Homo sapiens: one gene and its partner. The protein of the gene in region 2 interacts with the protein of the main gene of each other region in a biochemical or structural test. Each region holds a gene or a part of one and is shown on either strand. Other genes may lie near its edges.

The links.
Region 1: the proteins of EGLN1 (region 2) and OS9 form a complex in vitro, tested with the Homo sapiens proteins (one study listed by BioGRID).

What each region holds. Positions count from the first base shown.
Region 1 is NC_000012.12:57,707,117-57,722,366, reverse strand, and holds the end of OS9 (protein OS-9 isoform 1 precursor), read right to left. Parts: intron 6,608-15,250; coding exon 6,397-6,607; intron 6,279-6,396; coding exon of another isoform or gene 6,276-6,278; coding exon 6,174-6,275; intron 5,956-6,173; coding exon 5,855-5,955; intron 5,675-5,854; coding exon 5,623-5,674; intron 4,498-5,622; coding exon 4,409-4,497; intron 4,222-4,408; coding exon 3,946-4,221; intron 3,375-3,945; coding exon 3,185-3,374; intron 2,269-3,184; coding exon 2,104-2,268; intron 1,962-2,103; coding exon 1,849-1,961; intron 1,584-1,848; coding exon 1,458-1,583; 3' UTR 810-1,457; downstream 1-809. UniProt on the Homo sapiens protein: Lectin component of the HRD1 complex, which functions in endoplasmic reticulum (ER) quality control and ER-associated degradation (ERAD).
Region 2 is NC_000001.11:231,409,120-231,424,369, forward strand, and holds the start of EGLN1 (egl nine homolog 1), read right to left. Parts: upstream 13,169-15,250; 5' UTR 12,770-13,168; coding exon 11,879-12,769; intron 1-11,878. UniProt on the Homo sapiens protein: Cellular oxygen sensor that catalyzes, under normoxic conditions, the post-translational formation of 4-hydroxyproline in hypoxia-inducible factor (HIF) alpha proteins.

The DNA of each region.
Region 1 (15,250 bases), on a different chromosome or scaffold from region 2:
TCAGCAGAAAGGCCGTTCACCTCAGAGACCAGAGCAGAGGACTCTACCTGAGTCCTCTGCACTCAAAATTAGCAGAGCATGGTGGTGTGTGCCTGTAATTCCAGTCACTGGGAGGCTGAGGCAGAATTGCTTGAACCTGGGAGGCAGAAGTTGCAGTGAGCTGAGATCAGGCCACTGCACTCCAGCCTGGGCAACAGAGTGAGACTCTTGTCTCGAAACAAAACAAACAAAATCAGAGTCCTCTGCACTGGGAGGAGGCATGTGGGGGGACCCATGCCTGCACTTGGTAGTGAAGAAGAAAGGGAGACACCAGGCCCATGTACCCTTGGGCATACTAAGAAACTGGCATGTGTGGGCAGCAGCCCTCTCTCTGCGCATGCCCAAAGGTGGAGGTCTTTTTGGAAAATGTTGAAAGGACAGGTGGGTAGGGGTGTGGATGACAAATGGAATCTGGAGCATGATATGGGAGAGACCACAGCAGAAGGAAGATCCCCGCCGGGGGGAGCTCCATGGTGTGCATTTTGGCTTTCAGGGTATAAAGGGGGAAACAATAGGGAAAGACTTGGTGCAAAAGGGAAGGAACAGAAACAGACAGATGAGAAAAGGAAGATGACAGCATTGCAAGTGTTTCTTTCAATCCTTGCCAGGCCAGGCTTTGTTTAGCTACCCTGGTCTCTTCCTGCATACCCCAGCCCCCGTTTATAGTACCTGGGGAATGGGGAGCAAAGAACAGGATCAGAGCATGATCTGAAAAGAACACTGAGCCTTCTCCCTGCTGGAACCCCCACCCCACAAAAAAGGTTGATGGATTGATGGTCCAGTTGTTTATTTAGAAACCTGATTGTTCAAGAACATGGTGGGTGCTTCACACCTTTTTCACTGGGATTGTGCTGGAGGTGATAGGCAGCATTCTACCATTTCCTCAGCAACAGAGGTGAAGGCTCCTCAACTCAGAAGCACAAATTGTAGGGGACAGGGTGGGCAGGGAAAGGGAGAAGGAAATCCCAAGGCAATTCAATAGAAGAGGGTAAAACGACTCCAAACATCACTAAGGGCAGGTGGGGGCCTGCTTGCTCAGTGCCTGCTAAGTGTCCTGCCCTCCTTGCTCTCTCTACCCACCTCCACTCAAAAGATCCTACTGAATCTCCAGGTAGGCAGCAGGGAATATCCTATCATTAGGGGACAATAACAGGAAAAGCCACAGAGGAGAGGAAGAGGATTGAGTGAGAGTTCAGGAGAGCAAATATCACAGGCCCGGTGAGGTCTCAAGGTGGCTGCCAGCAGGGGCAGCAGCATTCACCCAGGGCCCCCACACCCACAGAGTTGCCCGAGAGGTCCACAGCTCAGCTCCACTCTGCTGTTTGGCCCTCAGGGGTTCCAGGGTGGGGAGGTGGGGAGGAGGCAAGCCAGTCCAGGAAGAGTCTGGATTCCGTGAAGGGTCAAGTGTAGTGTTGGTCTCAGAAGTCAAATTCGTCCAGGTCCCCTGTGCCCTCCCCACCTGGAGAGCCCCACACCCGGCGGTAATTGCTCTCCAGCTCTTTCTGCCGCTGGCGTTCCTTCTGGGCCTCTTCAGCTCCCGGCACCTGGTGGGAGAGGGTAGAGGTGGGCTGGAGCTACTGGCCGTTGAGCCCAGGGAAGTCCTGGGCCAGGCAGCTGGGGGAAGGCAGGGAATGAGGACACCCATGTCCTGAGGGGCTCTTCCTGCATGGCAGCACTCTGAGCCACTGGAACCCCAGCCTTGTCTTACAGATCAGGAAATGGAAGCTCAGCAATGGCGTGGCTGGGGCAAGCCCGCACCTCCACTCCAGGAGGGCTGGGGGCCAGGACTCGGGGGTAGAAGCCTCTTACCAAGATATTGAAGAAGATCTCCTTGAGGTTTCTCGTGTCCTCATCAGTCAGCCAACGTGCACCCTCTTCAGTCCCTTCAGCCCATGGGCGGACAATTTTGATCTCAATTTTCCCTGGAAAGGAGCAGTATGCAGTGAGAGGAGAGGATGGTTGGGAGCCTCAGGGCAGGCCCCCTGCCCCACTGGTCCCAGCCCCTCCACTTCCGGCAGCTTGCCCTTCCGACAGCACTGGGTCCAGCCGCCCTCCAGGGCCCACCTGCAGCTGTGAGTCCCTCCCTCTCCAGCAGCTCCTTCACCAGCCCCTCGATTTGTTTCAGCTGTGGGTTTTCCCGTTTCATCTCGAGGACAGTCAGATCCTGATTAGGGCCTCCGAGACGGAGCTTGGTGACCCGGACCCGGACTCTGTGCTCAGGATCCTCCTCTTAGAGGGGGAGACACACAGGGAAACACAAAGCAGAGGCGTGACTCCAGGGTTAGGGGTGTGGGGGTCATCTCCCCCTAAAACATCAGTTGGCTTTGGCAGCTCTTCCATCTCAACATGTATATGAGCCAGGGCTCAAAAAAATGTGTGCCCCGCCCCTCCCAGTTCAGCCTGTAGAGCTCCCTCCACCAATTGCAGCCTTCCATCTTCCCGCCCTACCCAATAATTCTGCCCGTCACCTATAGGAAAACAAATGTTTTCTAAAGCCAAAATCAGGCCACCTGCACCAACAAAGTTCTGTTTGAAGAAGCAGGTTGGAAAAGTGTGGTCTCCTCCTCCATATGTTGGGACTTTAAAGACATTTCAATGTTTATAGAGAGAGTGGGAATGGAAGGTTTGAAACTGGAACATTCCATTTAGAATATCTGATGTCCACACCCATAGGACACTATGAAATGGACACAAGGGGATACAAGAAGAAGAAATAATTTAAAGTCTATCCAAGCTATTGGCTCATGTGCAGCTGGGCTCTCCTATTCATGCCCTGACAGCTGGGGCCTCTCTTGGTGCAAAGTCCTAAAGTGGTTTTCAGCATATAGACTCACAAGCATTCAATTACTAGCTACTGATCATCCATTGTGTGCCAGGCAGAGTGCTAGGCACTGGGTGTACAGGAGCAAACCAGAAAACCAGCAGATATGCTCTAAAAGCTGCTTCCCAGAGGGATGAATAGGAGGTAAACACGCAAAGGGATGATGGTGTTGGGAAGCAGGCGCAAGTGAGGACAGTGTTCCAGAAAGTGGGGAGAGAATGAGCACCCTCAGAAGGGAAGGAACAGGGTCCCCTCTGGGAACAGAACCAGCTGAGGGATGAAAACAACAGACTGGGCTACTCTTTCTTGTCTGACTGCTCTCACCTGTAGGTTGGGGTGATGGGGGAGGCTTTTTGGGGACAACCCTCTTTTTCTTGTGCTTCTTCACCAGCTCTGGACTCTGTTTTTCCTCCAGTCTTTTGATGAGTTTGTTGAGAGTGGATGTGAGAGCCAGCATTGCCCGATCCCGCTCTGACTCCTTCTTCAGCCCATCTGGGTCCAGCTCTTTCTCTGTCTGGAATACCCAAGAGAAGAGAGTGAGTCAAGGGTCTGGGGTGTGGAGGCAGCCAGCGGGCTGGGCTCTGTAGGAGAGTCTGATATTTTGAAATGGAGTTTTGCTTATCACCCAGGCTGGAGTACAGTGGTGCCGTCTCGGCTCACTGCAACCTCCGCCTCCCGGGTTCGAGCGATTCTCTTGCCTCAGCCTTCCAAAGAGCTGGGATTACAGGTACCCACTGCCATGCCTGGCCAATTTGTTTGCATTTTTAGTAGAGAGGGTTTCGCCATGTTGGCCAGGCTGGTCTTGAACTCCTGACCTCAGGTGATCCGCTCACCTCGGCCTCCCAAAGTGCTGGGATTACAGGCGTGAGCCACCGCGCCTGGCCAGAGAGTCTGATATTTAAGTCTTGTCCCTCTCTCTGGTCCCCCTTCCCCAACAGCCCCGATTAATTAGGGAAACAGCTACCACTTCCAAGTGCCCCGTCCTTGCCCTGTGCTGTGCCCTCTGTTTCTTTTAGCCCGTCAGCCTGTCCTGCTCCACGGGACCAGGCGGCTGTGGAAGCAACAGGAGGAAGAGCTGGGCTTGCCTCCTGGATGATGTTTTCCAGTTCCCGCTCCATGCCAGCCTTCACCTCCGAACGGAGCCGGTCTCGGTCTGACGGAAGCAGGATCCCTTCCAGTTCCTTCTCAAATTCTCCCAGTAACTGCCGTTCATCCTCATCTTCATCCTCATCCTCATCCTCATCCTCCTCTTCTTCCATCTCTCTCTGCCGTTCTGGATCACCCCTTTCCTTCTCTGGTTCCCTCTGAGGGACTTCTGCAGCATCATCCACAGGCTGCTCTTGGCCTATATTTGGCTTCCCCTGGGTGGGTAGGGAGTGGGGAGAAAGACAGTTGGGGTTTCAACAGAGACACATGGTCGGGGGCAGACAAACAGTAGCAGGTGTGTGGTACTGGGGGACCCAGGAGTTGAGTCCCAGGTCAGGGTAGTTTTTCAAATGCTCGCAGTTGGGAGGTGGGTTCTACCCATTCCCTAAGCACGGCCTATACCTTTTTTGTTCCACCTTTCAGCTCCTCTATGAATCGAATCAAATCCGCAGGGCTTCGAATGACTTTGACCTGCACGTTGTTCTGAAAATCTGAGATGAAAGAATAATAATCATGAACCTGTTCTGTTGTGTTTAAATTCTTTTTTTTTTTTTTTTTTTTTTTTTTTGAGACAGAGTCTTGCACTGTCACCCAAGCTGGAGCACAGTGGTGCAATCTCTGCTCACTGCAACCTCTGCCTCCCGGGTTCAAGAGATTCTCCTGCCTCAGCCTCCCAAGTAGCTGGGATTACAGGCGCCTGCCACCACACCCAGCTAATTTTTGTATTTTTAGTAGAGATGGGGTTTCACCATGTTGGCCAGGTTTGTCTTGAACTCTTGACCTCAGGTGATCCACCTGCCTCAGCCTCCCAAAGTGCTGGGATTACAGGCATGAGCCACCACGCCCGGCTCTTTTTCTTTTTCAACATGGTGTGTTACTATGTTGCCCAAGATGATCTTGAACTCCTGGGCTCAAGCAATCTTCCTGCATCAGCCTTCCAAGTAACTAGGATTACAGGTGTGCGCTACTGCGCTCCTAAATTCTCTCTGGATTCCTAAGGACAGGTAATGAGAGACCAAGGAAGGACATGGTCCCTGCCTCTAGGATTTACCTGTTTGACAGTGAGACAAGGGCAAATATTCGCCTGCAGAGAGCACCATCCTAAGGTGGACACTCTGGTAGGAGAGATGGATGCTAACAAGCTGCTAAGTCCCCACTCTTCCATGCACTTCTGAGGCCCTTCTGGCAGTCACTCTAGCTTTTAGGACTACAGAGGAGATCCTGGGGCTAAGGGCTTGTCTTCCCTGGAACCCTTCTCCTCTTTCCACAAATATTAACCATTTAGTTTATTCAGTTCCAGGCCTTCTACTGTGAATTATGGATGCATTCTCATTTAATCCCATGCAACCCTCTAAGGTAGGGGTTATTACCCTCATTTTATGGGTAAGAAAATTGAGGTTAAGTGAATTACAAAGTCACCAAGTGGTGGAGCCACTGTGTTCTGCCACCTTGCTAAAATAGCAGTGCTGTCTACAAAGAGTATTAACTCCTATAAAAATGAATTTTCTGCCGGCCTGGCTACCCAACCTCCCTCCCAGGCTTAGCTCTCCCCTCCATCCCTACCCCTGCCAATCCTAAAATATATTCAGTAAAGGAGACATGGAAGGTTCACTCACCATTGGGAGCACCAGAAGCTGAATCTGCTGCCTCAGGGCTTGGGTCCTGCTCCTGACGAGGAGAAAAGGAGAGAGTCAAGTATGAAAGCCTGTTCATGCCCTCCATACTATGAAGGCAAAGGTTCTGGGGATATCCTTGCATCCCTAGGTAGATGTAGGTCACCTCACAATGGCCCCAGCTGCAGTGACCCTCCCCATCCCCATCCTGCTCCTCTGAGGCAGCTGGTCTCACCTCAGCCGGCACCTCCTCCCCTCCTGGGGCCTGGTCCTCTGGCTCATTAAGCATCTTCCAGAAATCTGAGTCCTTACTGTCATCCTTGGTCGGGCTCGCACCTAGGGTACAGAGAACAGGGAGAGACTGATCTGACAGGAGGGGTGAGACAGAAGGGAGCAAATAGGATGGGGTCCCTTCCCCTCCTCTATCACCAAGGGAGGAGGGCCCATGGTACTTTTCCACCCCCCCCCACCCCACCAGTCAGTCAGGACAGTAAGATCAGGGGAAGGGAAGAAATGGAAGTGAGTTTCACGGAACAGGTGAAACAAGGTCCTACCTGCCATCTTTTGGGGTGCCACCCCAGACTTGGTCTCACTCCACACTTGGGGGCCTAGATCTTGCAGCTCCTCTATGATTTTATCTCCATACTGCTTTGAGTCTACTGAGAAACAGCATGCAAGCAGGCCAGGAACACATTCCTCCAGCTATTCAATACTTGATCTTTTGCCACCCCCTGCCCCCGTATCTCCCCGTCTTCTCCTCCTTCTCTAATTACTCACCGGCTTGCCTCTGAACGTAGGCCATGTACTCCTCAGGCTGTAGGGAAGGGTGACAGAGGATGGCCTGCGGTGCAGCACTGGGTGGGGGCCGGAGGAGAGGGTGGGGGCAGAGCCGAGGAGTGCGAATGGTCAGCACATAAGAGCAGGACAAGGGCTCGTCCACGCGATCGATGTAGTCCCCAGAGATACCTGCACCCTCGTCACAGAGGAACTGCCAGGACAGAAAGGATGAATACACTTAATCACCAACAATAATTTGCTTTAGTTATTAGAGCAGGTGTCTTTTACTAAGCACTGATTATCTGTCAAGCATTGTGCATACACTGTGCATATGGCACTTTACATAAATTGGCTCACTTATCACAAAGACCCAGTGAGGCGATATTGGTTTCTCAACTTCGTGCCTCAAGAAACAGGTGTGGTGCAGTTAAGGCACTTGTTCAGGTTGACCAGCCTTTAAGTGGTAAAAACAGGAACTGAATTCAGGCAGCTTAACTGTAGGTAACCAATTTATGTTTCATATTCTTGTTTTGTATAAATATTGTGTGTGTGTATATATATACTTTTATTTGCTTCATATATGTATTATTATTATTATTATTATTTTTGAGATGGAGTCTCACTCTGTCATCCAGGCTGGAGTGCAATGGCATGATCTCAGCTCACTGCAACCTCCGCCTCCTGGGTTCAAGCGATTCTCCGGCCTCAGCCTCCCGAGGAGCTGGGATTACAGGCACCTGCCATCATGCCTGGCTAATTTTTGTATTTTTGTAGAGACAGGGTTTCACCATGTTAGCCCAGCTGGTCTTGAACTCCTGACCTCAGGTGATCCACCCACCTTGGCCTCCCAAAGTGCTGGGGTTACAGGCATGAGCCACAAGGCCTGGCCTGTATTTTTTTTAAAGTGTATATATATTTGTATATAAATATGTAATTTTTATATATGTGCATATGGTAAAAAACTTCAAACAATTCTAAGATTCTTATATCATTCAGAAAGAGGGTAAAGAGATTGATTGGCCTTTGATAAATTAAGCATGCAATATTCTAATTTCTAAAATAACTATTAAAAGTAAGAGAGGCTGGTGGTTCACACCTGTAATCCCAACACTTTGGGAGGCCAAGGCAGGAGGATGGCTTGATGCCAAAAATTCAAGACCAGCCTTGGCAACATAGTGAGACTCATCTCCACAAAAAATTTTTAAAAATTAGCGAGGTGTGGTGGTGTGCACCTGTAGTCTTAGCAACTTGGGAGACTGAGGCAGGAAGATCCCTTAAGCCCAGGAGTTCAAAGTTACAGTGAGCTATGATCATGCCACACTGCATTCCAACCCGTGTGGAAAGCAAGACCTTGTCTCAAAAACAAAAAGTGGGAGCGGTCCTACTTCTGAAATGGCAGCATGAGGGATTTCGCACACTCCACAGGGAAACTCCATTACTGATGAAAATTTAAAAACACAAAGCATGGCTGGGCGCGGTGGCTCACACCTGTAATCCCAGCACTTTGGGAGGCCGAGGCAGGTGGATCACCTGAGGTCAGGAATTCGAGACAAGCCTGACCAACATGGAGAAACCCCATCTCTACTAAAAATACAAAATTAGCCAGCCTTGTGGCACATGCCTGTAATCCCAGCTACTCGGGAGGCTGAGGCAGGAGAATTGCTTGAACCTGGGAGGCCAAGGTTGCGGTGAGCCGAGATCGCACCATTGCACTCCAGCCTGGGCAACAAGAGTGAAACTCTGTCTCAATACAAACAAACAAACAAACATAAAGCATTTAAACTCTTTGGAAATTTTCCTAAGGACATATAACAAATGAAGAAATGTTTACTCAAGAAAATCTACTAAATCTTTTTTTTTTTTTCAGACAGGGTCTCACTGTGTCACCCAGGCTGGAGTGCAGTGGCATGATCACAGCTCACTGAAGCCTCAACCTCCTAGGTCCAAGCAATCTTCCCACTTCAACCTCCCAAGGTAGGACTACAGGTGTGTGCCACCATATCCAACTAATTTTTACAAATTTTTTTGTAGAGACAGGGTCCCGCTATGTTGTCCAGGCTTTCCAGGGCTCAAGCAATCCTCCCACCCAAAGTGCTGGTATTACAGGTGTGAGCCACCATGCCCAGCTACTAAATCTTGAATAGTGAGAATTTGCAGCACTTGAACCATGACATGCTCCCTCAATCTATGCCCCAAACCCCTACCCCACAGCTCAGTTAGACTAAAGCTCCACTCCAGCAGGTAAGCGTAGTTAAAAAAAAAAAAAAAAAAAGTGGGGTGGGGCGGTGGAGGGGGAGGGACTTCCTATTCTCTCAACATCCAGTCATGAGATATGATATATGGTATTTTACCAGGAGGGCCACCAGCTCCAAGATACAGCAACTAAATTCCTGAAAAAGATCAAGGGCTCCCTTCCTCCACTCAGCCCCACCCACAGGGCAGAGGCTTTACCTCAAGTGCAGTGGGACAAAAGTATCGGGGCCCTGATTGCCCTCACGGAAGCTTGCTCAGAGAGTGGAGGTTTCACAAAAGGAGATGCAAACCGAGAGAGCAGAGGTTGTCATCCCTGCCTAGCTCCCTGCTCATAAAGCAGGAATGTCCTTCCAAGTGAAGCAAGCCATTATTCCTGACCCCAACTCCAGAGCAGGGCCTCGGGGATTTTGCCCAGGGGGAGAGGCAGTCCGTAAGAATACAGGGCTCCAAAACATTCTCCAAAGGACCTGACTTAATATGAAACAGAGTATGGGGAAATTCAAGCCTATAGGCACTTCAAAAATGTAGAGATTTTGGCAGGAGGCAATTAAAAGGAGGCTGATTGCTCCATGATAGCAACAGGCTAAACCTTGGGACAGCTAGTTTAACAGAGAGAACCAGGGAAAGGGCAACTGAGAGCCGTCCTGGACTCAGAACAAACCTATATATTGCCCTCAAAAACTAGCCCGACAAAGGGGCCCACAATTAACTGGACTAAACTATGGAACAACTTATGCCCCACATGTCAAAAACAATAAAGCAATTAGTTGGCAATGAATGGAGCCTAACAGCTGGGGGTGATACCAGCAGAGGCAGATGGCTTAACAAATTCATGAAAGAAACAGTCAAAAAGCCTGCTGAAACCACTGTCATCTAGTGTGGCTGTGTGCAGGGCCAAGACCGTGCACTCTGAGAAGAGACACTAGAGGCTTCATGTTGTGAGGGGGAGACTGAATGCAAGTAGTGCAGCCAAGTCACTGAACAAATGAACAAACAAAAGCCATGGGGTGGAGGGCAGGAATTTCTATCTGGAGTTACTACAACATACTATCTAAAATGTCTGATTTTCAACAATTATGAAACATGCAGAAACAGTAAAGTATGAAACATATATAGGAAAATATGCAGGCAACAGAAACCACCTGTGAGAGGGCCCAGATGTTGGATCTCACAAAGAGTTAAAAGTAGCCATTATATTAATAAATATATTCAAAGAATTAAGAATTTAAGTCACACAAAGTGTGTTCTCTGACCATAATGGAATAAAATTAGAAATGAATGAGGAAAAAAATTTGGAAATTCAGAAATATGTAGAAATTAAACAATATACTCATTAAGTAACCAGTGAGTTAAAGGAAAAAAATCAAAAGAAAACTATAAAATACCTCAAAAATGAACGAAAATGAAGACATAACATATCCAAACTTACAGGATGCAGCTGAAGTAGTGCTTAGAGGGAAATTCATAGCTATAAACATCAATTTTTTAAAAACAAAATCTTGACTCCATAATCTACCCTTCTATCTTAAGAAACTAGAAAAAGAAGAACACACTAAACCAAGAGCCAGCAGAGGGAAAGACTACAGACTAGGACAAAAATAAATGAAATAGAGAACAGGAATACCATCCTATGTGTCCAAAGACAGGGAACCACAGATACACCTTTGTAGGGAGTTTATATATGTTTTTAAGTTTCTGTAATAAAAAGTTTAAAAAAGACAATCTTTAAATATCCATAACTTGCACCTGGCAATTATGCTTTTTTTGCTTACTTTCTTTTTCTTCTTTTTTAATAGATGCAGGGTCTTGCTCTGTTGCCCAGGCTGGTCTCAAACTCCTGGGCTCAAGTGATCCTCTCTCCTCAGCCTCCCAAAGTGTTGGGAATATTGGCATTAGCCACTGTGCCCAGCCCAATTATATGTAAGATATATTTACACATGCATATATGTACAATGTAATAATCATTTGTGACAACAAAAGAATTGGGGGTGGAACTATTTCAACCAGTAGAATAATGGTGACAAAATGATGGAACACACAATGGAATTTTATGCAGCTATAAAAACAAAAAAGGGCCAGGCATGGTGGCTCATGCCTATAATCCCAGCACTTTGGGAGGCCAAGGAGGGCAGATCACGAGGTCAAGAGATCAAGGCCATCCTGGTCAACATGGTGAAACTCCATCTCTACTAACAATACAAAAATTAGCTGGGTGTGGTGGCGCACACCTGTAGTCCCAGCTACTCGGGAGGCTGAGGCAGGTGAATCCCTTGAACCCGGGAGGTGGAGGTTGCAGTGAGCAGAGATCGCGCCACTGCACTCCAGCCTGGGTAACAGAGCAAGACTCCGTCTCAAAAAAAAAAAAAAAAAAAAAAAAAAGATATACTGCCATTGAAAGATCTCTCTAAGGTTTATTGTCCAGGGAAATAAAAGCAAGGTATAGAACAGTGTGTTTAATTTACTATATATTGTTTATAAATAAAGGGGAAAGGAAATAAGAATCTCCATTCATAATTGTTTGTAATCACACAAAAAGGCTGGAAGGATACATGCAAAACTAAGACCAGGGTTAACCTGTGGGGCTGGAGCAGGGATGGCGGGGAGAGAATGGGAAATGAGCAGATGAGAGACAAGTATGGGAGGAAATATTTTTCTCTTTTTTTTTTTTTTTTTTTTTTTGAGACGGAGTCTTGCTCAGTCACCCAGGCTGGAGCATAGTGGTGTGATCTCGGCTCACTGCAACCTCTGCCTCCTGGGTTCAAGCGATTCTCCTGCCTCAGCCTCCTGAGTAGCTGGGACTACAGACATGCCTCACCACACCCTGTAATTTTTGTATTTTTAGTAGAGACAGGGTTTCACCATATGGGCCAAGCTGGTCTTGAACTCCTGACCTCAGGTGGTCCGCCTGCCTCGGCCTCCCAAAGTGCTGGGATTACAGGCATGAGCCACCATGACCAGGTGGGAAATATTTCATTACATACCTTTTAAATAATACTTTCTGGGTTTTGTATCATGGGAAAGTATTATCTATTTAATAATTAGATAAGGAATTTAAAATAGCCATTAAAAACTTGTCAGAGATATATAGATGGTTGGAGACAAATTTATGAGATATAAAAGAGGAAAAGCTGAAAATGAATGAGCTAGGCATTCATTTCAAGAAGTTGAACAAACAGTAAAATAAACCCAGAAAAGTAGAAGGAAGGAAAATAAAGATTAGAGTAGAAATTAATAGAAAACAAATACAACAGAGAAGCTCAACAGAGCCAAAAATTGTTTCTTTGAAAAAACTAGTAAAACTGACTAACCTCTGATGTGACTGACCAGTAACAAATTAGTGATGCAAAAATAACCCATGAGGAATGAAAAGAGGAACCTAATTACAGATGCCACAGAGATTAAAAAGATAGAAGAATACAATGAACTTTATGCCAATAAATCTTAAAAGTTAGATGAAATGAACTCCTGAAAAGAAAACTTAAACTGTCCCAAGTAGAAACAGAAAACTTTGAATATTCCTAAAACTACTTCAGAAAATGAATCAGTAGTTAAAAATCTACCCACAGCCAGGTGCGGGTGGCTCACGCCTGTAATCCCAGCACTTCAGGAGGCCAAGGTGAGCGGATCACTTGAGGTCAGGAGTTTGAGACCAGCCTGGCCAACATGGCGAAACCCCATCTCTACTAGAAATACAAAAATTAGCTGGGCATGGTGGCACACGCCTATAATTCCAGCTACCTGGGAGGCTGACGCACGAGAATCTCTTGAACCTGGGAGGCAGAGGTTGCAGTGAGCCGAGATCATGCCACTGCACTCCAGCCTGGGTGACATAGTGAGACTCTGTCTCAAAAAAAAAGTAATAACAAAAAAAAAAAGGGATCGTCAGGGATAATATATATGACCACATTTGGTTCATTTCAGGAATGCAAAGTTGGTGCAACATTAGAAAACCTATAAATTATTTAATTTCAAAATTAAACATAGCCTTAAAACATATAAATAAAAAATTAACAAAATTGCCAAATCCACCATCACAGTGGGAATATTAACAGAGTTCTTTAAATGATCACTAGTCAACTCAACATAAAATTGTAGAAAATCTGAACAATACGGTGAGCATCTTGAACTGCTTAATTGGAGAAAAGACATGCTTTCAAGCGCAAACATACAATTTTTTAAAAATTCATCAAAAAGAAAGTCTCAGCAATCACCAAAAGAATCACTGACACAATGGCATAAAATTAGAAACCAATAGCAATCATATAAAAACAACAAAGCAAAACACATTTGTTTAGAAATATATTAAGCATAATTCTAAATAAGTTCAGAAGCACGTAGAAACCATAATGAAAATGGAAACACCACATACTAAAATTTGAGGGATGCAACCAAAATAGTACTCAGAGTGAAATGTAGAGCTTTAAGTGTATAATTAAGAGAGAAGACAGATTGAAAAGCATTTCGCTGAAGAAGTTATAAAAATATTTGCAACTCACATCACAGACAAAAGGACAATATCTCTACTATATAGAGTTCTTATAAATTGACAAGAAAAAGACCAGCAAGCCATTAGGAAAACGAGCAAAGAATTTGGACAGCTGAAAGAAAAGAGTAAAGAAGGGAGTAGAGAAAACCCTTAAATGAGGAAAATTAGACATTTTTTTCTTAAGAGAAATGCAAATTAAAACCACACTAAGAAATCATTCTTTCTCTGATGCCTACCTGATGATTGGCCAAAATCCAAAAGTTTAAAAATATACCAGGTTGGCACGGCTATAGGGAAATCAGCATTCCCATACGTTGTTGGAGGGAAAGTAATTTACCTAAGCAGAGTGATTTCGCAGCACGTAGCAAAATTACACAAACTTACTGCAGCACATAGCAAAACTACACAAACTTACTTCCAGGAACTCAATTTACATATCCTCTGTAAGTACAAGATTATTCAGTGCAGCACTTGTGTGTTAATAAAAGATTTAAAGCAAGCTAAATGTCCATCAACAGGGAACCATTTAGATAAAAAATGATACAACTATATAACAGAATAACAGAAACTATATGCAGGAATAAGGATGACTTTTTTTTTTTTTTTGAGACAGTGTCACTCTTTTGCTCAGGCTGGAGTGCAATGGTATGACAATAGCTCACTGCAACCTTGACCTCCTGGGCTGAAAAGATCCTCCCTTATCAGCCTCCTGAGCAGCTGGGACCACAGGCACACACTACCACACCTGGCTAAATATTTTTTTGTAGAGATGGGATCTCACTACGTTGGCTAGGCTGGTCTCAAACTACTGGCCTCAAGCGATCCTCCTGCCTCCACTTCCCAAAGTGCTAGGATTACAGGCATGAGCCACCACACCTGGCCCAAGTAAGGTTTTATATATATATTGATTTGGAAAGAGTGCAAAGATATATGCTTATATGTGCATTTAAAAAAATCTCAGAGTATATAAAGAAATTAACAATGGTTACCTTTCTTTAAGGATGGAAAGAGGCTAATGAGGGACAAGATGTGTTAATACTTTTCTCTGTATACCTTTTAAGCATTTCTATAGTTGAGTTATGTGAATGTGATTATGCCTATTCAGAAAATTTAATATAGAATTTTTTATTTAAAAAATTTGAGATGATGTCTTGCTCTGTCACCAAGCTGGAGTGCAGTGGTGTGTTCATAGCTCACTGTAGCCTTGACCTCCTGGGTTGAAGAGATCCTCCCAACTCAGCCTCCCAAGTAGCTGGGACCACAGGCACGTGCCACCACACCTGGCTAATTTTTTTTTTTTTTCCATAGAGACAGGGTCTCACTGTGTTGCCTAGGCTGGTCTCAAACTCCTAGCCTCAAGTGATCCTCCCACCTTGGCCTCCCAAAATGCTAGGATTATAGGGCATGAGCTACCATGCCTGGCCAGAATTTTTTAATGTTAAAAAAAATTCAAGTTGTTAGAAAAAAAAGAAATCAGAATAACACAAAGAAAGGAGAAGGAAGGAAATAACAAAGATAAAATAACGAACATGTGGCGGGACACGGTGGCTCACGCCTGTAATCCCAGCACTTTAGGAAGCCAAGGCAGGTGGATCACCTGAGGTCAGGAGTTCGAGACCAGCCTGACCAACATGAAGAAACCCCGTCTCTACTAAAAATAAAAAAATTAGCTGGGCATAGTGGAGCATAAAGCACCATCCCCTTGGTGCTTTCTCGTGACAGTGAGTGAGTTCTCAAGAGATCTGGTTGTGGCATGTCCCCCCTCTCTCTTTTGCTCCTGCTTCCACCATGTGAGACTCTGGCTCCCCACTTGCCTTTCACCATGATTGGAAGCTTCCTAAATCCTCCTCAGAAGTAGAGGCTGCTATGCTTCCTGTATGGCCAGCACAACTGTGAGACAATTAAACCTCTTTTCTTTATAAATTGCCCAGTCACAGGTATTTCTTTATAACAATGTGAGAATGGACTAATACAATGTTAGTGAAATACTAAATGAACAACAGAGAGGATAAACAAAACCAAAAGGTGGTTATTGGACTAATAAACTAGACAAGCCTCTGGCAACATAGATCAAGAAAAAAGAGAAAAGGCAAAGTCAATATTAGGAATGCAAAA
Region 2 (15,250 bases):
CAAAATTTTCAAACTGATAAAGGAAAGTATGTTCTTCTAAAACATCATGCTGTTTCCAGACTTGGAGACTTTCAATAGACTTAACTCCAACTTAACCTTTAGAAGTCTTAGCCTAATTTCTTAAAAAAAAAAAAAAACAAAAAAAAACCTCTCCTGGCCTGCAGACCAAGTTAGGTCTCCTCTTGTGTGATCCCAATAGGATCCTGTACTTCCATCTCATAAACATAGCACTGGGAATTACAGGTTCAACATTGTATTTCCCTCACACAGTTAAGACTCCAGAAAGGCAGAGAGAATTACTTTGACCTGGGCACTGTGGTACCTTCAGTGCCTAACACAGATCAGACACTCAGTAAATAGCTGTTGAATAACTAAATGAAGTTCACAGGATCAATTTTAAATCTGTTCCTCCATCTCCCCCATCAGACAGGCTTACCAATCCTCATTCCTTCCAACAAGAGGAAACTTCAGTCTTAATCACATTGAGTTTGCAATACTTCCAGAAAATTCAGGTAGAAATGTCTGTCAGTCCTCTACAGATGCCAAAGTAAGAGACAGACGAAGGAATCTTTAACAAATCCTAATAGCTGAAGTCATGATTGTTGTTATTACTATTATTTGTTACAGTTACAGCTAATACTAATTGAGCACTGATTATCTGTTGAGTATTTCTTTATTTTCTCACCTGTCCTCAAATAGACCTATTGGATTAAGTACTGTTATTAACTCCTATCATACTGATGAGGAAATTAATGCTTTAGGTTAGAAAATGTGTCTAAAATCAGAGAGCAATTAAGTAGCAGAAGAGCTTCAACACAGGCAAACTAGTTTAAGAACTTGTGCTTCCATGAGCGCATAAGATAACCCAGGGGGAAAAAAAGTGTAGACTAGAGGGAAAAAAAGAGAAGACAAACCACAGATCATAAAGAATAGTAACATTTAAGGGGCAGACACTGCCAAGGAAGAACTGACGTAAGAACTGGTATTTATATTCTTGTATGATTCCTCACACATATGGAATGGAAAGTCACCTAATGACTTGCTTCTTGCAAAAGAATACAGCACAAGTGATGGGATGTCACTTCCATCATCAGATTACAAGACTGGGACTTCAGTCTTGCCAGCAGACACTATTGCCTTTTTGGCTTGCATACTTTATTGAAGAAAGCTGTCATGTTAGGGAAGCCCACGTGGCAAGAAACTGAAGCCCTCAGTCCAACAACCTGCCAAGAACTTAATGGTGCCAATAACCACTGAGTGAGGCTAGAAGCAGATCCCTCCCCATTCAAGCCTTAGAAGGAGACCACACACCCTGACCAATGTCCTGACTGCAGCCTGTGAGAAATAGTGAGGCAGAAGATGTAGCTAGACTGTGCCCAATTCCTTGTCTACAGAAAGTATGACATAACAAATGTGTGTTGTTTTAAGCTGCTAAACTTTGGAGTAATCTGTTATGTAGCAATAAATGACTACTACAAACTAAGAAGAAAAATCTAGAAATATAGATGTTCAAGTTCCTTCTACATACACATCTTCTGACAGTCATGAACAGAAAGTGAACTGAACTTTAGGAAAAAAAACTACCATTGTAAGTTGAGGAAAAAAAGAAAACTGAAAAATATAAGAAAAAACAACTGAAAGGATAAGACCCAGGCTAGTAAATGGGTAGCCAAAGATTTTAAAGGTGGGGTGGTTAATAGAGCTATTGCAGCAGTAAAAATATCTGGTCTAAGGGGTGGGGGGCGGGGAATCACTAAATTTTTTAGCTAAAAAGCAATTTTCAAGGCATCCATTTCAGAGTAGACCTAACAGAAATTGGTAGAAGACATCACACAGGTAAAATATGCCTTGAGATAGAATTAAAGGGTAATTATATAACAAAACTATAGAAGCCAAGCTCCTAGTCACCATTTATAGAGGAAAATTGGAAATATCAATATTAATAAGAAAAAATTCAGAGAGATGGTTAATATGGTTTGGCTCTGTCTCCTCACCCAAATCTCATATTGAATTATAATCCCCATTGTCAGGGGAGGGACCTGGTGGGAGGTGACTGGATCATGGTGACAGTTTCCCTCATGCTGTTCTCATGATAGTGAGTTCTCATGAGATCTTATGTTAAAAGTGTTTGACAATTCTCCCCGCCTCCTTCTGTCACGTAAGACATGCCTTGCTTCCCTTTTGCCTTCTGCCATAATTGTAAGTTTCCTGAGGCCTCCCCAGCCATGTGGAACTGTGAGTCAATTAAACTGCTTTTCTTTATAAATTACCCAGTCTCAGGTCTTCACAGCAGTGTGAAAACAGACAAACACAATGGTCAATCTTTTTATTCCCCAAACTTATGATTAGTCCTTTTCAATTTACTTCTTAGATTTGACATTTCCTATTAAGGTGTTATTACATAAAAATTAGCCTTAAACTGAATTGAGATGAGATTACAGCTTCCTGGGTTCTGGAGTTCATGTTTCATGTTTCTGGTTTTAATTTTTAAAAATTATTTCATACCTGACAATCTAATGTTTACCCATACTTTTGTGACCCTCTCTCACTTTAGAATCAAAAGCAAGGCTTCCTATGCTCAAAAGTCCTGGATAGTAGGCCGGGCACAGTGGCTCATGCCTGTAATCCCAGCACTTTGGGAGGCCTAGGTGGGCGGATCACGAGGTCAGGAGTTCAAGATCAGCCCGGCCAACATAATGAAACCCTGTCTCTACTAAACATACAAAAAAATTAGCCAGGTGTGGTGGTGGGCACCTGTAGTCCCAGCTACTCAGGAGGCTGAGGGAGGAGAATCACTTGAACCCAGAAGGCAGAGGTTGCAGGCAGAGGTTGCAGTGAACCAAGACCACGCCATTGCACTACAGCCTGGGTGACAGAGTGAGACTCCATCTCAAAAAAAAAAAAAAAAAAAAAAAAAAAAAAAAAAAAAAGGCCTGGATAGTATATTCTAATTTTAATAGTACCAGTATTATTTTATATTTGGTACTTTTATTTGCAATTCCAATGCCAGGCTCCACATCAAAGGGATGAAAGGCTCATACAACACTGATATCTTCACAGATCATCCAATACAGTCCCTAAGCTATCAGTAACTTTCTTCTTCTTCACTACTTTAGGAAGCTATCATATAGTCATGTGTATCATACAGTCATGTATTGATAAGTCAGTGGAACTATTTTTGATATTTTACGGTAATTCCATTCTTCCCAATTTTCTGTAACAGTTTTATTTTCAACAGTAGGTTTAAATGAAGATGTTTTATTTCTGACTTCATTTTGACATTGAATCTAAATCTATGCTTCCCTTATGTTGAACCATTCAATTTTCTCTAATGTTCCCCTAAAGTTCAAACTTCGTATATTTCTTTTTACGTGGATTCACAAGCCATCTTGAATGAGTGGTTCATGCAAGGAAGCACAGACATACTTATAGACAACACTAAAAGTGTTGCAAGGTTTCCTGCAATAATTCCTGAAGGCGGTTCCACTGGTAGAGCTGATACAAGCATACTGCACAGAGAAACCTTAAAACCTCTAGAGAAGAAAGGATGGGGCTAGAAGGTCAACAGTAGTAGTAGCTAGCACAGCCAATTTGAAGGAATGTGAAAATATAGAACATATAACTTTTTTCTTGTTGCTTGGCTGGGAAGTAAGTGTCAGCAAGCTATCATAAATGGCAACACTGAAAAAGTGGGGGCAAGAGAAGAAAAGCAGAAGACTTAGGTCAAAATAAAACAATAATTTCCTTCCAATCGCTCAAGCCAAAACCCTTTAAGTCATTCATGACTCTTCCATTCTTTCATACCCCACATCTAATGTATCAGCAAATCTCATTTGATTCTACTTTCAAAATATATCCAGAATATATCCTACACAAACTGATCTCATTTCCTATCCTACTACATCAATCACATATCCTTTACTCCTTCCACTAAAACCACAGTGGTTTCCTTGCTGTTTTCTGTTTCTTTTTTTGAGACAGAGTCTCACGCTGCTGCCCAGGTTGGAGTGCGGTGGCATCATCTTGGCTCACTGCAAGCTCCACCTCCTGGGTTCAAGTAATTCTCCTGCCTCAGCCTCCAGAGTAGCTGGGACTACAGGCGGATGTCATCACGCCTGGCTAATTTTTGTATTTTTAGTAGAGGTGAGGTTTCACCATGTTGGCCAGGCTGGTCTCGAACTCCTGACCTCAAGTGATCCGCCCACCTCGACCTCCCAAAGTGCCGTGCTTGCTGTTTTCTGAACACACCAAACACATTTCAAGTTAGGGCCTCTGTATTTGCTATTTAATACCATTCCTGAAAATGCTCCTCTTCCACATATCCACATAACTAATTTCCCACTTCATTCAAGTCACTATTTAAATGTCACCTTATTTTACCAATCTTATCTAAAAGAGTACTCCCTAGTCACTCTGTCCTTATCTTATTCTCCATCTTAATATTTACCACCTAACGTGCCATGTATTACTTGTACATCTGTTTATTGACTGTCCCTCCCCACCCCACACTTCCTCCAACTAGAAGATAAGGTCCATGAGAAGGGGGGCTTTTTGTTGTTATTCAGGACACCCTAGCTCCTAGAACAGGGCCTGTATGTGCAGGGTACTCAACATTTGTTGAATGAACAAATGAGTGAAAATAGTATCAAAACAGGACTCAGAAAATATAACAAAGGGTAAAGAGTACACGTATTTTGCTTTGGTAAAGAAATGGGACCTGGAACACTGAATAAGAAAAAAGAGAATTCCAAACTCATGAAAACTTTATGGGGATCTCAAGTCAACAGACACTGTCCAAGCTCTTCAGAAATGAAACTAATTCTGAATTGGTTATGGAAAAATGTGATTATGAAGTACAAAGGTGGCAGAAAAGTTGAGTTTTGACTACGAAATAAGGCATGAAATAAACTGTTGTAAGAGAAGATTTTGGTTAACCATCTATATCAATTTTTTTTTAGAAGAGATTTAGCTGAAATAAAAGGCAAAGACAAGCTCTGAAAATGGACTTAGTAAATTATCTGAATGCCATCATGTAGTCACAGACAATGTTCCAAGTGTGGAAACGAGGGCACAGTGGAAAAGAAGGTGGAATGTAAGCACAGAAGTAAAATCTAAGAAAAAGAAACTGCCCAAGAATGTGCTAGAATAAAAGGGAGACTGAAATAGTTGGGGTAGCTTTAAAGGCCTAAAGTGAAAAATTAAACAAAAACAACTAAGCTGACAACATCAATCCAAAGGCATATCAGAAAGGCACAGGCTTCAGAAAACATGGAAGAAGAACAAAGATTTCAAGCCTGATGGGAGAGAAAAGGGAAAGGAAAACAGGAGTAAACTGTCACTCAGAAACACAGAGTGGGAAGACAGCTCCTACTAAAGAAACAAGAGAGGGTAGGCCTACTTCAGGGCAAACGGCTTTAAATAGTATCAGAGGAAAGACAGATGGATAAAGAACATTTAAGAAAATTAGGTAGGAGAAAAATTTAAACTAGAATGTCAGATAAGCCAACATGTAGAATGACAGAAGCAAAAGGGAGAAGAAAGTCTCGAATGTTCAAGCATATTCTCAAAAATGGCAGAGGCCCAGTGCGATGGCTCATACCTGTAATCCCAGCACTTTTTTTTTTTTTTTTTTGAGACAGGCTCTCGCTGTCACCCAGGCTGGATGAAGTGCAGTGGTGCAATCACAGCTCACTGCAACCTCTACCTCCCAGGCTCAAGCGATCCTCCCACCTCAGCCCCTCAAGAAGCTGGGACTACAGACATGTGCCACCATGCCTGGTTAATTTTTGTATTGTTTTTAGAGATGGGTTTCACCACGTTGCCCCCTGGTCTGGAACTCCTGGGCTCAAGCAAATCCGCCCACCCTGGCCTCCCAAAGTGCTAGGATTACAGGCATGAGCCAGCACTTTGGGAGACCAAGGCAGGAGGATCATTTGAGGCCAACAGTTCTAGACCAGCCTAGACAACATAACGAGATCCCGTCTCTACAAAAAAATTTAAGAAATTATCCAGGTGTGGTGACACATGCCTGTAGTCCCAGCTACTACGGAGACTCAAGTGGGAGGATTGTTTGAGCCCAGGAGCTGGAGGCTGCAGTAAGCCATAATTGCACCACTGCACTCCAGCCTGGGCATGTTAGGCCCTGTCCTTTAAAAAAAAAAAAAAAAAAGCGTAAAATATGCCAAAATTAGTTAAGTAGAAATATGTATAAAGTTACAGATATGAATGAACTAAATCAAAGGTCTGTTGATTTTGTCACCAGCTCTATGACCTTGAAGAAGTTAATCTCTCTGGGACTTTTTTCTCTTAAAAAAATGTTATTTCTTCTCTTTTAAAAAAAAATGTGTAAATGCAGGAAAAGTGGTTAGGTAAAAAAATGGGTGATCATTCTAAGCCCTTTTTTCTCCAGTTTATCGGAGGGGAATGAGACAGGGAAAGCACAGAATTCTTAAAAGAATCAGAAAGATAGCAAATTTTTTAAATGGGAGAAGTAATAGTTAAGAACAGTTCTGCATAGCGCTTTACCATCTAAAAGGTGCTTTACATGAAACATTATATGTTCACCTCACAACAAGCCTGAGAAGCTAAAAACACAGGTATCACTGAACACCATTTTATAAACGGAGCAACTGACGACTCAAGAAATTAAGAAACTGGACTAAGGATACAGAAACCATAGCAGACCCAGGATCCAACCCAGATCTAATGGCAGAACCAAATCCATTATCTTTCTTTTTTTTTTTTTTGAGACGGAGTCTCGCTCTGTCGCCCGGGCTGGAGTGCAGTGGCACAATCCCGGCTCACTGCAATCTCTGCCTGCCGGGTTCAAGCGATTCTCCTACCTCAGCCTCCCAAGTAGCTGGGACTAAAAGGCATGCAACACTACACCCAGCTTATTTTTGTATTTTTAGTAAAGACAGGGTTTCACCATGTTGGTTGGCCAGGATGGTCTCAATCCCTCGACCTTGTGATCCACCCGCCTCAGCCTCCCAAAGTGCTGGGGTAACAGGCGTGAGCCACCGCACCTGGCCCCTTTCTTTCTTAATAATTTTTTTTTTAATAGAGATGAGGTATTGCCATGTTGCCCAGGCTGGTCTTGAATTCCTGGACTCAAGCTATCGTCCCACCTCAGCCTCCCAGAGTGTTGGGAATTACAGGGGTGAGTTACCACATCTGGCCCGGAATCCATTATCTTTCAAAGTTAAAATGATCTCTATTATCATCTCCTCCTCCTCCACGTAATTAAGGATTTGTGGGTATTTTTGTGGATTATTAGGTAGTAGATAAGTAAAGAGTTACATACATACAAAAAAAAAATTTTTTTTTTTTTTTTGAGATAGGGTTTTGTTCTATCACCTGGGCTCAAGCAATCATCCCACCTGAGACCATGGGCTCGCACCACCATGCCTGGCTAATTTTTTAATTTTTTTAGAGACAAAGTCTCACCATTTGCCCAAGCCAGTCTTGAACTCCTGGGCTCAAGCGATCCTCCTGCCTCAGCCCCTCAAAATGCTGGGATTATAGGCGTGAGCCACTAAAGCCCAGCCTAAAATAATCTTTTAACGTAAAATAAAATTCCTTTCGAACTAAAGGAGTTAGTTTACATGTAAACTACACATCAACTCACTACACAAAATGTTTTCACATATAGTTGATCACAATCTATTAAGACTACCCTCTCAGTCCACACGTCCCTTATAGCTGACAGAATTACTGCAGTTGTACTATTTTCAGCCTTTCTACATACAGAGTAACTCACTTTTAACTTAAATTCTGACATAGTTATAAAATCATTAAACAAGTAACTTCAATTTGTGTATCCTGGATCCCAAGCATACAAAGAGAATGGAAAAAGGAGATAAAGGTGTACTTATGTATTTAGGTTTAAATAACATAAGTTTATTTTCTCACAGTTCTACAAGCTGAAAGTCTGAGATCAGGATGCCAGCATGGTCTGGTACTGATGAGGGCTCTCTTCCTGGGTCAGTTTCGTTTTTAACATCTAAGAGGATTGTTCACCACATCTCTGTTAGTGATAATAAAACAGCTGCATTTTCCTCATCCTATTCTTTGCTCTAAAAGCCATAATCAGCCAGACCTAACTAATTAACTACAGTAATAGTGAAAAATCTTAGTAATATAATCTGCTGCTTATTAGTCCCAACCTATTTTATTACTCCTTTTCTTTATGTATGTTTTAACGGAACAGATGAAGTTTTGGATTAAATTCCAAAAATGTTATGTATATGATTCTAGTATTTCTATTTTAATGGGAAAATGTTTTCCTTCATAGTGGCGAAGAAACTCCAACAGAAAAGTTCAACATTTTCCCATGATCCTCACTCCTCTGCATTCCTCTTCCTCCTGTACCCCCAAGTCAAGGCACACTACTCTTCACAAAACAGCAGACCATGGTTTCTTTCTACTGCATATCATTGAGACTCTTCTTGATGAAAACAAGCATAAGCAAGGACATAGGATCAAAGGGCAGGGTAACGGCAAAAAGGAGAAAATCCCAAAAAGACCAGAGAAAGTGGAAACAGGAGCTTGGTTGTATCAGTGGCTACAATTACATTTCTGTTTTTCTCCTGTATGACTTCATTTTTCCCTTATGGTTCCTTTTTTAAAGTAGTTGCATAAACAGCGGCCAGATAAGCATGTTTGAAGTAGAAATTCAGGGGAAAACAAAGCCTACACTGAATGGGCCACAGACTATCATGTATCATCTGATTACCATGCCCTGACATAAAGAGCATGCAATATACATGATGTAAATAAAAAAGAACATCAGATTCTTAGTCAGAAAACCTGAATTTAAGTCCTAATATGCTGCAGAATTTCCAACAAGTGAACTAACTTTTCCTGAGTCCCACTTTTCTAATCTATAAAAAAAGGGATACAACCACCTGCCTACTGCTGTGAAAGTTGAAATGAGAAAAATACTACACATTTGCTGCATATAACTTTTAAAATCACTATAATGTTATGAAGGATAAAATTCTGAATTGAAGTCTCCCTCTGCAATCACATAAAAAAACCATATTCTGACATCTGTTAACAGTATACTGACAGGCGCATAATTCAGGTGGATAAATACAAAAGTGGCTTTTAAGCCACTATCTGAAATAAACATTGTACAGTCACCTAATAAAAAGTTTTACACAGCCCAACCATAGAGTATGATTACTCACATATAAAGCTAGTGCTATTCACCCACTTTCAACAAAATATATGTATCAAATTGCAGTTCCAGCAGTGTGCTAAATAATCTACATCTCATTTAATGTTCTACCTATAACTAGCGTAGTTAAAAAAGAGCATGGGTTTGATATCTGAATGACTTAAGTTTGAACACCAGCCAGGGTTATAGTAAGTGGTAGACCTCTGCCAAGTCTGAGCTGAAAATCCCTCAAATGTAAATTAGGAATAACACTACTCACTTCACAGAATTAAGATTATTGTGGCCAGGTGAGGTGGTTCAAGTCTGTAACCACAGTACTTTGGGAGGACAAGGCAGGAGGATCCCCTGAGCCGAGGAGTTCGAGATCAAATGATCAGCAAGACCCTGACTCTACAAAAAAAATTTTTTTTCATTTGGCCAAGTATGGTGGTGTGTGCCTACAGTCCCAGCTACTCGGAAGCTGAGATGGCAGGATAGCTTGAGTCCAGGAGGTGGAAGCTGCAGTGGGCCATGCTTACACCCTTGTACTCCAGCCAGGGCAACAAAGCAAGACCCTGTCTCCAAAAAAAAAAAAAAAAATACTCTGATTGTATCTGTATTGATCCTAATATGATGCCTAACACACTGTGGTTGGTTGCTCAATATACGGTGGGTGGTTATTTTGATTGCCTTCTCATTTCCACAAAGCAAACACCCTTGTTTTTTAGGAATAAATTACATGTTCAAACACGATTACCAAAACCTCTTTCAGCCAAGAAGTACAATGAAAGGAATTCCTGAATATCATTTATAGATCCTGAAGTTGCGTCCCTAAAATTAATATAAGCAGATCAAATCCAAAGAGTTTAAAGGTCATCCCTCCTTCATCCTGTCCCTTATTACCTGCTAATATGTACAGTTACGTGACTTAAAACCCCAACAACTAGAACTCTTGAGGAAGGAGGTACCTATTTCCTAATAGCATCTCTATGAGAAGCATTTGCTCTAAGAGCCAGGCTGTCTGCTGTCCCTTCTCTAAGGACAGGTGAAAGCAGGAAGACAAAAGAGAAAAGAGGTCTCAGCTTAACTTGGAAAGCTAAATTAACTAAGGAAAGCAGATCAAGAAAGATTTGGGACATCATCTTCTTCAAGAATCCAATTTAAGCTTATGTCCCAACTATATACTTTGGTCAGTCTTCACAGCCCTATTGTCTCAAACTAATTTCTTTCCTGCTCTGGAGCTCAGGACTTTATGTTCAGATGTGACAATTTCTTAAAGTTGTGCCCTGACAACTTTCTTAAAAATTTTATCAATGAAAATCTAGTGAAAGACCAACGCTGAAATTTCATCAGATCCCCCTTTTCCTTCCAGTTTAATATTATTCAACTGTTCCTTTTTAAGACTACAAGAAATTAAGACTTGTGCCTTCATCCAGCAATGAAGTGGCAATAGGTAAATTAGACTCCACATTGTATTTTTCCCCACAAAATGTTCACGTTTATAACTTTCTCACTGCCTATGTTCAGTCTTTCGGGCAGCCTGAGAATCACATGTAATGACTGTCAAAGTAGATGATCTGACACACACATACAGAAAAACCACTAGTTAGAGTCAGCGTGTGTGTACAAACATGCAACTGTGATGCTCTCCCAGGTCAATCTCTCAAAACCCACAAAATCAGAGACTGATGGTGGAGGAGGGTGGCCTGGGAGCAGCCACAAAGAAAAGATCAAGATCTGAGAAGTAAAATGAAAAAGAGCTGCAAGAGAGTTGGTTAAGGACGAAAGAGTCTACTGTTTATCATGAGGGAGGAAAGAGGGAATAGACTAGGTAAGAAGTGAAGAAATCTGTGGAGGAAAAACCGCAATAGTAAAGAGAAAACAAAAAGATCTCACCAAATTGGGAGGATAAAACGAGCCCTCCTGCGCCAATTCCGTGTTGTTGTTTTGTTTTGTTTTGTTTTCCAGGAAGTTACAAAACAGTTTTCAACAGAAGGATTACATTAACAAAGCAAATAAAGGAAACTGGTGCTAAAAATGTAGCCTACCTACACTGAGAGGCCTGAAGACGGAAATACTTCTTTCCCCTTTTTGTAACGGGTTTCAAAACAGTAGGAACAGGGTGAGGGATAAGAGCTATAACAGGGGGAGGGGAGTAGCCAAGCTCTTCCTGAATACAGAGTCTTTCGACTAAATGCTTATTTTAAATGTACCTTTTTGCGGTCAGCCGGCAAATTCCTAACTGAACACAGCGTTTGACTCTCAATCGAAATGTGATGAGTGGTTCAGACACCATAGGAAATTTAACAGCTTATGCAAACACAAGGCAGATGCAGAACCAGGACTTGCTTTGGGTGGTACTCTAACACCCCTTCACTGGGTGGCTAAAACGCCACTAAGGTTTGAATTGTGACCAATAGTGGAATGGAAAAAAGAAAATAGGAAAGTTAAAGCGCCTACGTTGAGTCAAAAAACCATGCAATTAGCCGGAGAAGTTTGTGAACGGGCAGTAAGTGGAAAACAGTGGATACAAAGGGGCTAACTAGATAAACAGCTACTACAAATTCTGTCCGTCTTCCTTACGGGGAGCTACACAAGAAAGAGCGAGTCCCTTCTATATAGAGGAATGCTGCTTCTCAGCCTAGGCAGTTTCAGTCGCAGGCAGGGGCTGCCCGCCGAGAAGGGCCTGTCCAGCACAAACCCGCAGCACACACTTACTTTCGTCCGGCCATTGATTTTGTAGCTGCCCAGCTTCCCGTTACAGTGGCGTATCAGGTCGTCCATGCTGCTCATGAGCAGCCCAATGGTTTCGCAGCCGGGCTCCTTGCCCTCGATCCAGGTGATCTTATCGCCTCGGATGTCCTTGGACGAGTCACTCTTCTGGCTGACCAGCTGCCCGTCCGTGAACTTCCCGGTGTCGTGCAGGGCGCGCACCTCGTCGCCGATCTGCTGTCCGGTCTCCTTGCCGAGGAAGTCGTCCACCACACAGATGCCGTGCTTGTTCATGCACGGCACGATGTACTCGAGCGCCAGCTTCAGCGCCGGCAGGGGCTTCGTCTGCCCGTTGGGCCGCAGGCCGCCGCCGGGGCTCAGCGCATCCCCGGGCGTGTTGCTTGGGGGGTACAGGTTCGCCTTCTCCTGGAACAGCGATGAGCGGGCCGGCGGCTCCTCCTTGCCGGGCTCGGCTTCGGCAGCCACCGCCGAGCCCTGGCCGCCGGCGGCCGCACGACACGGCGACGCGGCCGCCGCTGGGTCGGCCGGGGGCTTGGCCTTTACTTTTCCCTTGGCCGCGTCCCCGGAGGCGTTGTCCCGGCGCGCCGCTGCCTTCCTGGGCTCCCGGGCCCCGGCCCTGGGCGGCGGCACTGCAGCCGGCGGCGCGGGGCCGGAATGCTGGTGTGGGCCCACTCCGTGGCCGAGGGCGCCCTCGCTGCCCTGGCACACGAGCTTGTGCTTCTTCCAGTCCTGACGCTGGTGCTCCTTGCAGCAGTAGAAGGAGCTGCGGCAGCGGCTGCAGCGCAGCAGGTTCTCCATCTTCCCGCACAGCTCGCAGTACTGCCGGTCTCGCTCGCTCGGGCTCGGCCCGCCGGGCCCGCCGCTGTCATTGGCCATGGCGGCGGCGGCGGCGGCGACGGCGACTGCGGCGGCCGAGCAGGAGGGGTAGCGGCCGGACGGCCTCGCCCGAGGCTGGGGAGCGGGGAGAGAGATAGGGGCCGTTACTGCGCCATGCACCCGCTACCCTCGCCTCAGGGAGGCCGGCACCCCACGCCCTCGGCCCGGCCGCTTCCGAGTCCTAAGCTCCGGCGCAGCGCCGGCAGCCGCCTCAGCGCCTCATCGCCGCCGAGGGCTGAGAGAATAGGGCCTGTGCGGCGAATGGCAACCTGGGCTCAGGCGCGCGGGCCTGGGGAGCGCAAGACCGGCCCCCTCGGCCGCCGCCGCCGCCTCAGCGTCCCGGGCGGCCCGGCCCAGGCTGTGGAGGAGCGCAGGGCATACGGGCGCCACTCGCTCTGCGCGCTCTGCACGTACACCACGGCCCCGCGGCGACCCGGGCGGGCGGCGCGCGAGGGCGGAGGGGGCGGAGGGAGGGCCGGGAGGGCCGGGGGGAGGGCCGAGGGGCGGGGGCTGCCTGCGCTCCTCCGCACTCGGCGGGGCCGGGCCTCGGCTTCTGCCTCGGAGGTGGGTCGCCCGCTTTCCCTCCGCCCGGGACCGGACTGGGACGCCGAGAGGCCGGTGCGCTACCTCAGCCCGCAGCGGCCTCCTCGGGGACGCCGAGGCGCAGGCCCGCGAGCGGCGGAAAGGCGTGGGGCAGCGCGGCAGCGCCTACACCTGCTGGAGGAGGGCGCCAGCCGCAAGCGGGTAGCGGAGCGAAGGCGGCGTAATCATGGCTGCTCTTCCTCCAGGCCGGCGCGGGGTGTGCGAGGCTCGCTCCAGTCAAGGTTGCAAGGTGGCTATTGCGATCCTCATTTTGCAGAGGAGGAAACGGAAATTCAGAGAAGTAAAGTAACTTGCCCAAGGTCACGCAAAACTGGGACTGAATCCAGGAATCAGGCTCCCAGATTCCAAGGCTGTTTTTTCCATTACACCATACAGCCTCTATTTCAAGAAGCCCTGAAATGGTTAAGAACAAAATAAGTATTACTATGGTGTTAATCCAATCTCTTGCGCCCCGTTTCGACCTAGTTTAAAGGTAATGAAATTTGAGGGTTTTAAAAAAAATCAAAAACTCATTTTTAAAACCTTTGAAATCCCGCCGAGTTCAAAACCCCATGAAGAAATTTTGGGCTACCAAGTTAAATGTAATCAATGCTCATTCCAATATCCAATTTAAACTGATGGGATTATTCCTGAAAAGTGAATTTTGATGGTAAATGAGCAGTACTACATTAACGACTCTCACATTTATTTTTAATAGAATCTGTGCTGCGCGGATGAATACAATTCTTTGTTTTACAGAGCATAAAAACCTTACCAGAAATAAGCCAAAGATGTTTCTTTCTGCTGCTATTTGTCTTAAGAATTAAAAGGTCTGTGATTTCGAGTTTATCAATCTTTATCGAACACTATGTGGAAAGTGGGGTGCTAGGCTTGTGTATCACTTGAGTATACTGTAACTTCAGTCCTTGAAATATAGCCTTCCAAACTTAAAAAGTTGTAATATGTATTTCAAAAGCAGGATATAAGGAATTATTGTAAACCATATTGTAGAAGTTTAAAAAGAGGCTTGAATCCAAAAATATAAAACCTCTTCATCAAATATACAGAATTTAAAACTGTTATAAAATCCTGCTGCATGCGTAAATGGCATTCTGGGGATCCAATCAAGTGAAAGAGGATGATAATTCCAATTAGCTTGTCCTTTGGGAAACTGAGATAAATATACTCACATCTTCAAATTTCAAACCGAACTAAAAATCCAAGTTTCTGTAAAGAATTTAGACCTAGACCTGTCTTATGTGTATCCTACTTTCCCAGAGCTTTATTAAATACAGTAAAATGTCATTGTTGCAGACATTACTAATTAGGCTGTTCAACAAATGCATTGAGAGTCCTTGACAAACAAATGAATTAGTCATACTACACTCAGAGACACATAGTCCAATGCAGGAGGCAGGTATGTAAACAAGGACAATCCAGAGTTCAGAGTTTCCTAAAAGAGGGATGAATAGGATGGAATGGGAACACAGAAAAAGGAATTGCTAGCTCTGCCATTTGCACTAATAAAATCCAAGCAAATTAATTCAGAAATTCTTAAAATATAAAGGAGCTATCTCATGGCTTACGAAAATAAGCATTTAAAACATTTTTCATACACATAAATTATGTAAAATGTAATTTAAATACAAGTAGAGTCTAATACTTCTTAGGCTTCCTTTTGCTATAGTAATTATACATGAGGCTTAATTATTCACAAGAGCAGGAACTTTACTAGGAGGACTCATTCCACAAACACTTGATTCTTCCAACAATTTCTTTTAAATTTGCTATTTCAGTCTGTGGTGTGTCCACAAATTATTTACATCTCTATATGCTCTACTCATATATTTTCATTGAAGTTTACTTAAAAGAATAGATGTCCATATCAAAACCTTTATT